Regions from separate parts of the Homo sapiens genome. Here region 2 is linked to region 1. The links come from fine-mapping of genetic effects on gene expression. Tissue or cell type: whole blood. Region 1 holds a variant in brackets; the other region holds the start of a gene. All regions are shown on one strand. Distances are from middle to middle.

The links. PIP is the estimated chance that this variant, and not a neighbour inherited with it, causes the effect.
Region 2: it holds the start of STRIP1, and the variant in region 1 is fine-mapped to the expression of STRIP1 in whole blood (TOPMed, PIP above 0.99).

Annotation. Positions count from the first base shown.
Region 1 is chr1:110,057,284-110,063,219 of GRCh38, reverse strand. It overlaps ALX3 (ALX homeobox 3), which reads left to right. Exons shown (of 4, transcript NM_006492.3): 3 at 1,657-1,785; 4 at 2,179-3,350. The coding sequence ends at 2,487. Among named protein-coding and RNA genes, the nearest start is that of ALX3, 10 kb to the left of the region's middle. The variant C/G (reference allele first, on the strand shown) is at 2,799.
Region 2 is chr1:110,031,168-110,036,613 of GRCh38, reverse strand. STRIP1 (striatin interacting protein 1) reads right to left here and starts at 1,990. Exons shown (of 21, transcript NM_033088.4): 1 at 1,797-1,990. The coding sequence starts at 1,976. It overlaps LOC105378895 (a long non-coding RNA gene), which reads left to right and starts at 1,175. Exons shown (of 3, transcript XR_947693.3): 1 at 1,175-1,205; 2 at 3,183-3,265; 3 at 4,177-4,318. RefSeq lists silencers at 1,396-1,465, 1,706-1,925 and enhancers at 1,926-2,315, 5,328-5,446.

The DNA of each region.
Region 1 (5,936 bases):
CTTCCCAAAGCAAGTGTTTGTGGGAGGTGGAGAGCACTTCCTCTGCTCCTCTCCTAGGCCTTTTCAACCTGAGAGGGTGCAGGAGTAGCCATGAGGCCCTCACCCCTAGTCTAGAAGCTTCCTGAAGGATGGAGACCCTGGAGTAGGAATGTTTTCTCTGGCAGGGGTGTGAAACCCACCCATACACCCTGCCCTATGGAGAGGAAGAATGAGACTACACACCAGATAATGCAGAGGGCAGGTCCAGAGCCCAGGGGAGGCCTACAGCGGGATCCCCAAGGGAGAATGGGTGGTGACAGAAAAGTGAGTTCCAATAGCCAGATTCACTGGCTGTAAGCTCCCTCATCCTCTGTCAGGGGAGGGAGAGCAGAGAAAGGAAATCCAGGCAGCTGGGCAGGTGGGGGTGGCCTTTTGCTGACCTTGCTGCAGGCCTGCTTTCTTATCTTGGCAATCTGGGAGCTAGGGGGATGGGGTATGCACAGCCCCTTCACTGTTGGTGCCTTACCTGCCTGCATGTGTAGGAATGACCATGGGGGCAGGAAGCCTGATCCCAGCTGGGGTAGACGGATTACTCCACACACACACACACACACACACACACACACACACACACACAGCTTTCTTCTGTTGTGACTCCCAGCTAGATATCCCTGGAAAGCAGGGGTTGTTTTGTTTGGTTGGTTTTATTTTGACATTGTTAAATTTAGCTTAGAGGCTGACACATAAATGTTGATTAAATGATAGAAATACAAAACATATATACCAATACAGTTAAATGTAACAGTCACAGCACATATACCAAACAACGAATTCATCACAGATATGTACACAGATGTGCACAACACACAGATGTGCCACCCCTATCTGCCAAGGGCTCACAAATAAATGGGAGAAACAGATTCCAAAACAGATCATGGTAATGGAATGGGGTGAGTACAAAGAGAGGTCCAGGGTATTTTGGAAGTCCTGTGGAGGATGCCCAGTGTGGATGTATGTGTTGAGGGGATGAGTAGCCCAGGAAGAGAAAACCTAAGCAAAAGATGGAAGGAGCAAGATAGCAGTGTTTCAGAAGAGCTGGGCGGGAGCTTGGGAGGCAACCAGAAGAATAAATGTGTTTGCCTGGCAGGATATGAGGCTGTGCAGAGAGGCAGGGGCCTTGTTAAGAAGCTATGCTCTGGACCAAGGTCTCCAGGGAGTCACTGAGGGTTTAAACAGGACCATGACCTGAACAGAAATGTCTAAGATTCCTCGGATGCTATGAGGTGGGTAGCCTGGAAAAGGAGATGAGGCAGGGAGACTAGAAACCCAACACATGTACACAGTATACCCAGGAAGTACCTAGGGCCCCTGAGGCCCACAGATGCCCCCACAACACCCTTACTAGACACAGCCAGGCTGGAGGACCACAGTGATTCAACCTGGGGAGTGACAGCTGGAGGCCCATGGGGCCAATTACCCACTGTGGGCTTGGGCCTCTCCCAGGCTTCCTCCCAGGCTTCCCTGGCCTGGAGAACAGTGTGGATTAACAGTTGAGATCCTCCATCCTGGAGCCTGCTCCCCATCCCACAAGAGGACACAACCATCAGCTCTCCCTAGCAGGCTCCTTTCCTCAGGGCTGCCCTATCACCCCCTCAAACCCCCACAACCTGCCCCCAGGTCTGGTTCCAGAACCGCAGAGCCAAGTGGCGGAAGCGCGAGCGTTATGGGAAGATCCAGGAGGGGCGGAACCCCTTCACGGCTGCCTATGACATCTCTGTGCTGCCCCGTACTGACAGCCACCCTCAGGTAAGACCCCAGCCCTACCTGAACCAGGACCTGGCAGGGTCACCAAAAAGAATATGAGGTCTGGCCTGAAGAAACCTGGAGAGCGTCAGCGTTCTGTATGACAGTGGGTACACCACTTCACTTCTTTCTCTGCAAACCGGGGCTCTTGCCTGTCTCATGAATGACGCATGCGGAACACAAAGGAATCACAGAAGAAAATTTCGTTTTGAGAACAGTGGCAGGGGCCTCCTGAGATGCCACTGCCAGTGTTGGGGGTGAGAGGGGGTAGATCTGAGCCAAGTGGAGGTTTCCTGGAAAGTTTCTGGGGCCCCAAGGACAAAGAGAAAGCCCCTGGGTAGGGAAGTCAGCTCCTGAGGCTACAGGCTCATGGGCCTTCTTTCCCTCTCTTTTCAGCTGCAGAACTCCCTGTGGGCCAGTCCAGGATCTGGGAGCCCTGGAGGCCCCTGCCTTGTGTCTCCAGAGGGCATCCCCTCCCCATGCATGTCTCCATATTCCCACCCCCATGGGAGTGTGGCTGGCTTCATGGGGGTGCCAGCCCCTTCTGCGGCTCACCCTGGCATCTACTCCATCCATGGCTTTCCCCCCACCCTGGGGGGCCACAGCTTTGAGCCTTCCTCAGATGGTGACTATAAGTCTCCAAGCCTCGTCTCGCTCAGGGTAAAGCCCAAGGAGCCACCCGGCCTTCTGAACTGGACCACGTGATCGGTTGCATGGACCTGCAGAATGAGCTGCCCACCTCTTTTTCCATTCCCAGTCGCTCCCAGCCCACCTCTGCCTCCAAGCCCCAGATGGTTCTGGAGGCTGCGAGAGCAGCTGGCACTGTCAGCCCCCAGCAGGGAACACGTTACAGGGTCTTTTCTCTTAGAACAAGGTGGGGCTGCCTAGGAGAAGGGGCTTCGAAGCAGCCAGGACTCTTCCTACCACAAACTGAGTCCCCTCACCTGAACTCTGGGCTGGAGGCAGGGAGACACTGCCCTGCTTCCTCCAGACTTTGTCCAAGTCCATTGTCATCT[C/G]TCCAGCTAAGACAGCTTACTTGGCTCATCGTTCAGGGAACCCAGGAAAATGGGAGGAGAACGCCGCGTGGACTGAAGCTCTTCATGATGAGATGGAAACCAAAAGGGAGTCTCCCATGATGGGGTGGAGTCAGCCCTGCTTCCCCTCCCCACCAGCAGGGGGCGCACTGGTGTCTGACACTAAGGAGGGTGTAAAGGCCAAGGTCAGCATAGACTGAGGCACACTGGCTCCTCAGCTCCAGCCACCCTCACTCCTGCCATGTGCCTGCACTCCCAGCATGCCATGCAGTCATCTTCCCCTCCAAGGGGGCAGAAATTCCACCAGAAATCACCACATATTTGGAATCTCTTCCACGGGACCAGCCCAGAGCTATGCCATGGAAATGATATTGGATGTTGGTAAGAATAAAACAGATTTCTACAGACTGAGATCCTGATCCCCATTTTTGTACAGACACTTTTGTGTTTTTTTTGTTTAAAAAAAAAAAAAAGGAGAGAGAGAGAAAAAAAAGGCTGCCCAGCATTCTAATAAAGGTGGTGGTGTTTTTTATACCAGGTGACTGTCTATCCCCAGGGCTTGGCACTGGTTGCTTTGGGGCTGGTCTGTGTCCAGGATGCAGGCTGGCCACGACCCCTGAGAGGCCAGCAAGGAAGGGGAAGGTGGTCCTGCAGCAGAGCCCTCAAGGCCGATGCATGCCAGGCTGGGCTCTGTCACCTGCCTAGGGTCTCTGTGGCTTTGGCTGTGCTGGGAGGCAGGGAGAAAAGCTCAGCTCTAGGGCTGGGCTCATGTGGCAGGGAAAACTGAGGGTGGGACTGGCAGTAAAAAAGCTAAAATAATTTTGTGGCTAAACTGACAATGGAAAGGAGGTAGAATGGAAGAAAGGGGTGCCCACTGAGGTTCTGTGCTCCCCATGGGCTGGGACCCCAGGGTGGTGGGAGTGGGTCAGCTTCCTTCCAGATGCCCCAGGAAATGTCTGAGCTGTGGGGCAGAGACAAAAGCCAGAACTCTTTCTTGTGGTTTCAGAGTATTACCCATTCTATCCTTCATCCTCACTTTCTGCCTTATCTCCGAAGCCTGGAAGGCAGGAAAAAGGTCTGGCCCTCCCACCCTCCCAGTAAACACAACCACATTGCTCAGAAGAATTCAGCCTCAACCAGCAGCCCGGCCACCCCCACCCCACGCCTCATCTTTCAGGCACAGAGAAACCCAAGCCCACAAAGACACATCAGGGCTGAGCTGATTCGAGAGGAGGGGGTGAGTCCCCCACCAGATCAGATTTCCCAGCCAAGACAGTCGCATGTATCCCCAGAGGAGTCTGTCTTCCCTCCCTTCCTTCCCCTTCCCTCTATACAAGGGTCTGGCTTTTGGTGATTTCTTTCCTCTTGGTCTTGACGCTGGCTCTGAGGTCCACAGGTGTGAGCCCTGTATCCGGGAGGGGACCCAGCAGAAAGAGGAGAGTCAGGGTAGGAAGGAGAGACATCCCTGGCTGCCACTGATGAACAGAATCTCCTTCACCTGGCCAGGCAGTAATGAAATTGGGGCTCAAGCCAACCATTCTGACTCCAGGGCTCACACCACTGTATGAGAAGTTTCTTCATCCAAGGAGTCATCAGCAAAGTTTTGGACCTTCTTCCCCACCAAGTCAGAAAGATGTATAGAGAGAGTAGTTTGTTCTACAAACATTTTTGAGTGCCAACTCAGCCTGGCAATGTGCTGGGTGCCAGAGATAGAGCGATGGTTGAGGAAAAATATGATTCTTCTCTCTTGAGAGGGCTTAGAAATATGAAAGGAGGGAAGAGGAAAGGATCTGTGATAAACCCAAACAAAGAAACCAGAAGTGGGAAGAGACAGGAGAAAAAATAAAGGTGAGCCAGAGGTCAATGAAGCAAGAGTGGGAGAGGCTGGCAGAGGCCAGGAGGGGACCCATGGCGGGGTCGGGGGCTCCTAGGGGAGGGCACAGAGAGGCCAGAGACTGGCTACTGGCTCTCATCCAGGGGCATCTGCCCACAGCTCATATTTTTCTGTCCAGTGACAGCTAAATGAAGAGAAAGCTAACTTTACAACCGCCCACTTCACATATAATGAATATGAATGGGTATCCCGGAGCCTGTTTTGTGGGATTGTCTGTGAGGTGACAGGTCCTCCTACTTACTGGGCCATCCCAGCCAGCCTGTCCCCTGCCTGGGGCATGAGCAGCCCTTCCACCTGCTTCTCATTAGCTGTGTCCCTCCTCCTCCCACACACCCCTAAGACACGGCCCCGTCTCCAGATAACCCTGCCCTCAGCCTCACTCCAGAGCTAACCTCAGACCTCCGCCCAGGCCAGTGGTTCCTCAAGGCCAGGCCTGTGCTCTGGCCACTCCTTCTGGGAAGGGAAAGGGGAAGTGGCCCCTCCTGAAATCCCAGCTCATTTTGCTGAGGCTCCTGTCTCCCCCAGAGAAGATGCCAGAGCCCTAAATCTTGGTCCTGGCAGAAACACGGACACCAGGTCAGGACTGGAGGGCCACAGCCAGGGGGCCCATCAGTCTAGTCTGCCCACCTCAGTCAGCAGCTGGAAATGCTTCTCATGCAAGGCATTCAATCCTCCTTCCCCACCTCTCCCATTTACACTTCAACCTGAATTACAACCCCAAAGTGCAGACCCTCTGCAGCTCCAGATGGGAAGAGTCTAGCATGGCCAGGAACTGGGAAGACCCTAACATTTCCTTTATCCAGCAGAGGAAAGACTTCCCCTGCCCCAGCCTCCTCCACAGGCTCATCCCAGGCATTTCACCTGGAAGGTGGTGAGCATCAAGCGTCAGCTGTCAGAGCCCTTGATTCTGATGCTGGAGCCCCCTTCCTTCCCACTTAGCGACTGCTGGCTCCCCCAGCAATCTCTCCTCCAATACTAAGAGGCTGGGACCAGTGGGACCTGTGGTAAGCCCTTCAGACGTCTGTTACCTATCATGCTATTGCTTTTACTTGCTCTTATGGCTGTGTCTCCATCAACTGCGAGCTCGAGAGAAGTGAGAGAGTGTGGTATCCTAGTAACCTGGATATCCAGGGCATCTACCACAGGGCCTGGCCCCAACAGGCCTTCAAGGTGTGATGGCAGGTTGCTGGACGAGTAGCTGACTCTTCTGAGATGCCTCTGGATTC
Region 2 (5,446 bases), 26 kb after region 1:
GATCAGGCTCCCAAACTACCGATTTCAGCTATGACTAAAGAAAGATCATGGCATCAGACTCTCTATAAAGAAATGGATTTAGACAGGTCTCTGCTTAAATGTGTCCATTTGACTGGTCTTTCATGTAATGAGTCTATGAGGAAATTTTTTTTTTTGAGACGGGGAGAGTTTCGCTCTTGTCACCCAGGCTGGAGTGCAATGGTGCAATCTCGGCTCACTGCAAATCTCCACCTCCCAGGTTCAAGCAATTCTCCTGTCTCAGGCTCCTGAGTAGCTGGGATTACAGGCACCAGCCACCACGCCCGGCTAATTTTTGTATTTTTAGTAGAGACAGGGTTTGATCACATTGGCCAGGCTGGACAGGAACTCCTGACCTCAGGTGATCCGCCCGCCTCGGCCTCCCCAAGTGCTGGGATTACAGGCGTGAGCCACTGCACCCGGCCTCTATGTGGAAATTAAAGGGTACAAAGAGAAATTACAATTCGTCAGAGGGTATCTATTTGACCATTCGTAGCTACTCTGGAAAATTTTAAACCATTTTTCAAAATGATAACTCCTCTCATGATGAAGGTAGGTTCACCCCCCTGCACTTTCGTAATCTTCCACTTGAAAAACTGAGTAGTTAACACTGATGTCCGTCATCCCACCATGCCAGGGCTCCTAAATGGTCAGTGTTTTTGTTTTTTTCAAATAATTCACTCCAAGCTCAAATTACGTCTACTTCGGGCTTGCCAATTGTTGACATGTTTTCTCAGGGGTTTAGCCTTGCTAACAAAAAATAAAAGCTTCTGAGGAACTGATTCCACAGGTCTAAAGGTAGTATCATTGCTCTTTGGTATGAATTGGTACATTATGCTTGGACAACTAGGAATTCCCTCTCATTAACTTGGCTGATCAGTTTGGCTGCTGATCAATCTAGGAGATGGCATAGTAAGTGCTCTGGGAACCTGCTCATTAAGAAGCCCTAAAACTCCGCGACATGAGTATCTTCATTCATGAATTCTGCAAAAGGAGGCAGTGGGAGGAATTCCTTAACTTGGGGTGAGGTTACTAGTCAGTTCCAGACTATGCCATCTCCAGAACGGCAGGAACGGCTCACTAGCGAGACAGGAAGGAATGTTGGGTCCTAACGCATGCTTAAAATGTCTATTTCTCATCTTTAACAGTTCAGTATCAGGCGCACTGGGCACAATAGCCCACCACAGGTACTGTTAACCCATGGCCTGATCTGGCTCAGGTCAGAAGAACAGGACATGTTTCCCCCTCCTACTCTACTCTCAATGATAATTAGCTCGGTCCGGCTCTAAGTTCCTTCCAGATCCTCGCCGGCGCCTTCCCTGCCCACACGCGCCTTCCTCTGCGAGCGGCAGGACCCAGGAGCTGGAGCCCGCGTGCCAGGGACAGACGCCCGAGATGATTAGGTTGGGGGCGCGGCAGCCCAGCGCCCTGGAGTGCACCAAGACCCCCGACTCCTCACCCCCGAGCTGGGGCGAGAGCGGCTTCCCCAGGGGCTAGGGCCTCGAGGCCACGCCCACAGTCGGGGCCCAGGGGAGCAAACCAGCAGTCGCCGGCCACGGGAAGCTCTCCCGGGCGGCGGAGCTAGAGCAAGGACTCATGCTCCAGACCCCAGGAGCTGCCAGCCTCGCTTCCTGCTCCTTTCGCTGTATAGTGACAGTTCTCGGCCGGACTCTACCGAGCCCTCCGGGAAGCCCAACCTGGCCCCTAGAGTGGCCCCGGGCCCGGGACCCCCGGCGCCGCCCGACCCGGTGCGAGCCTCGCCCCCCGAAGCTCCTGACCTCTGAGTCTTTGCGCTGGTTGCGGTTGAACTCGCGGGCTTTGCCCCCAGGCAGGAGGCCCGCGGCGGCCCGCGGTGCCCCGGGTGGTGGCTGTGCGGCTGCCGGCGGCGGAGGTGGCGGGGGCTGGGGCTGTTTGTTGTTCACGATCAGTGGGCCCGGACCGCCGACTGCCGGCTCCATCTTGGCTGCTCCACACCCCCAGCTTAACTCGCGCACAGCCGCCGTGATGCAACTCTCGCGTGATTTTCTCCAGGAAATTTCCCTGGCCGCCATATTAAGTGTGGCGGCCAGTGTTAGAAGCCATCTTGGCTGACCAATACCTCGCGATATTCTGTCTGCAGTCCTTCCCTTGTTGATCTTTTTAGTTTTCCACCTTCCTTTCAGTTTCAGTTTAGATGTAATTTTATCTGTGAGGCTTCCCTTAGCTTCTTCAGTCAGTTTAGTTACCCCTCCTTCCTCTAAATCGCTTTGCACTTATAACTCATAGCCTTGTTCAAGGCTTAGGCGGAATTTTGTAATGAACAAAATGGATAGGATCCTAGTCTTCACAGAGTTACCGTTGTGACAAGTGCTTGTCATTCATTCATTCAACAAACATTTAATAAATGTCTCCTGTGCACCAAGCAGTGGGATAAAATGAGGAACAAGTGTCTGCAGTCACGGTACATAACAGTGCTTGGTGGGTCAGACAAACAATAGACAAATATAGAGAAATAAATGCTGAAAAGTGTTAAAGGAAAATTTGTTCATGGCACTAATTAAAGATGGTAAGGCAGACTTTATGTAAGAGAGCCCATGGTGATAGTTACAGGGACCACTACAACCAGATCTTGCAGTGAAGAAGAGGAATTAGACTCAACTCTGACTCCAACAAGATATAGTGGGGATTTATAACCAAAGAGCAGGATGAGGGTCAGTGGACGGAAAACTACTAAGAGAAACATCAAGGATAAGAAGTTTCTTGCTAAACTGACCTAACAGGATTATTGCTGAAAGCAGGACAGGGTGCTAAGATGTTGAGGGTGGTCAGATACCGAGTGCTATGGTTTGACTGTGTCCCCCAAATTCCATACGTTGGAAACTCAATCCTAAAGTTCATATGTTGATGGTATTTGGAGGTGGAGCCTTGAGGGGGTGATTAGGATTAGATAAAATCGTCAGGGTAGGGCCCCTGTGATGGGACTGGTGGCTTTATAAGAAGAGGAAGAGTGATCTGAGCTGGCACACATGCTCTTGCTTTCTCACCGTGAGAGGCTCTCTACCATGCAGTTTAAGAAAGCCCTCACCAAATGCAACCCCTCGACTTTGGGCTCCCCAGACTCCAGAACTGCAAAAAATAACTTTCTTTCCTTTATGAATTACCCAGTGTTTTGTATTCTGTTATAGCAACAAAAAATGGATTAAGACGCCAAGAGTGGAGAGTCCCTGCACAAACTGGATTCAACAAGGACAGAAAGGAAGCCCAAACGGTTAGTCCTAGTAGGCAGAGGACTCACAGGAGCCTGACTAGAGTTTTGGCCAAAGAAGAGAATCTTTGTCAGAAGTAACAAAAATTGAGAGGTTAAAAGGTGGCAGTGGGGCGGGGGGCAGGGGTTGGTGGAGGCGGAGAATGTGGCTATAATATAAGCATGCTGCCCAAGGAAGGCAGGCCTGAGGGTGTGATTTTAGATGAGTTCTGAAAGAAGTGAGGAGAAGCCCTGCAAAGTTCCAGGAAGGGCACACAGACAGATGAAACAGCTAAATGCAAAAGCCCTGATGTTAGTGTCTGGAATTGAGTGAGCCAAGGGAGGGATAGTAATTGATAGAGCCATATAATGATAATGCAGGGACCAGAAGAATGCAGGGCCTTGAAGGTAGTGGGAAGGAGTTTGAATTTTATTCTAAGTGAAATGGAAAACCATTCGAGGGTGTTAACCAGGGAGATGTTATGGTGTGATGTTTACAAGTTCAATCTGGCTGCTTTTGGAGAAGGGATTGGAGAGTTGCAAGAGTGGATAAGGCAAGACATGTTAGGGGACCATGTAGATGGAGATGATGGTGCTTGTACCAGAGTGGAGCATTGGGTTGATATTTCTATATTGTGTAGGTAGGGGGACAGGATTTGCTGGAATCTTATCAGCTGGGTAGGGGAAATAAACAATGACCCCCTTGATCTAGGTTTGGGCAACTGAGTGGATGGCTGTATCACTTTCATAAATAAGTAAGCTCGAGAGTAAGAAAAACAGGTTTAGAGGAAAGATCAAGACTTCAGTTTTGGACACATCAAGTTTGAGATACTCATCAGACATCTTAGAAGTGTTGCGTAATAATAACTCTTACTATTATCTGTTGTTATACTGTGAAATCCTTAAAGGCATTTTATCCATCTTTGTCTCTCCAGCTTTACATATTGCCTGCTTTACACCCCAGGCTCAAGTCCAGAAAGTCCCTGTGATACAACTCTCCAGTGATTTCCCCTGAGGTCCAACCTAGTAGGTGCTTAAAAAGTCTTTGTTGTAAATTAATAAATTAATCCAAAACCACCACACTGCTATTTCCTCCTACCTATCTTCCTGTGCCTATCATAAGCTGTATCACCCGGGGAAAAACATTTTTCAGCTAAATTTAGAACAGGGAGGGTTTTGGTTCCATAATTCCACTTCTAGTAATAGATTCTAAGGAAATAATCAGATTTAGATAAAGATAGGTGTATGATAATATTCAGGCAATGGTGTTTTCAATAGTGTAAAGTTGGGATCAACCTAATTTGAAAAATAGCCAATAAGAAAATGGCTAACTTTGAGGGGCCAGGCACCGTGGCTCATGCCTGTAATCTCAGCACTTTGGGAAGTTGAGGTGGGAGGATCGTTTGAGCCCAGGAATTTGAGACCAGCCTGGGCAACAGAGCGAGACCCTATCTCTAAAAAAAAAAAAAAAAATCAAATTAAAAAAATTTTTGAAAAAGAAAAATGGCTAACTAATGGAATGGGGCATGCATAAGACAGAATATACAGATCTAGAAGGAAAAAGAATCCCAAATGTGAAGGAGCAGAAGCACAGCTGGAGAGCTCACTACTCTAACTTGCTAGGAAACTTTGCGAAAAGCACAATCCAGTAGAGAGTAGAAGCTGTAGAAGTGTCTTCATGCACTTCTCTTTTTTTTTTCCTTCCCCATCTGTAAAATGAGAATAATCCCACCTGTATTTTTGTCAGAGATGTGTGAACCACAGCAACTCCATCTTGAACAGGGGCTGGGTAAAATGAGGCTGAGACCTACTGGGCTGCATTCCCAGGATATTAGAGCATTCTTAGTCACAGGATGAGATACGAGGTCAGCACAAGATACAGGTCATAAAGAACCTGCTGACAAAACAGTTTGCAGTAAAGAAGCCAGCCCAAACCCACCAAAATCAATATGGTGATGAGAGTGACCTCTTGTCCTCCTCACTTTTACACTCCCACCAGCACCATGACAGTTTACAAATGCCATGGCAACACCAGAATGTTATCCCAGATGGTCTAAAAGGGGGAGGCATGAATAATCCACCCGTTGTTTAGCATATAATCAAGAAATAAGCATAAAAATGGGCAACCAGCAGCCCTCGGAGCTGCTCTGCCTGTGGAGCAGCCATTCTTTTATACCTTCACTTTCATAATAAACTTACTTTCAC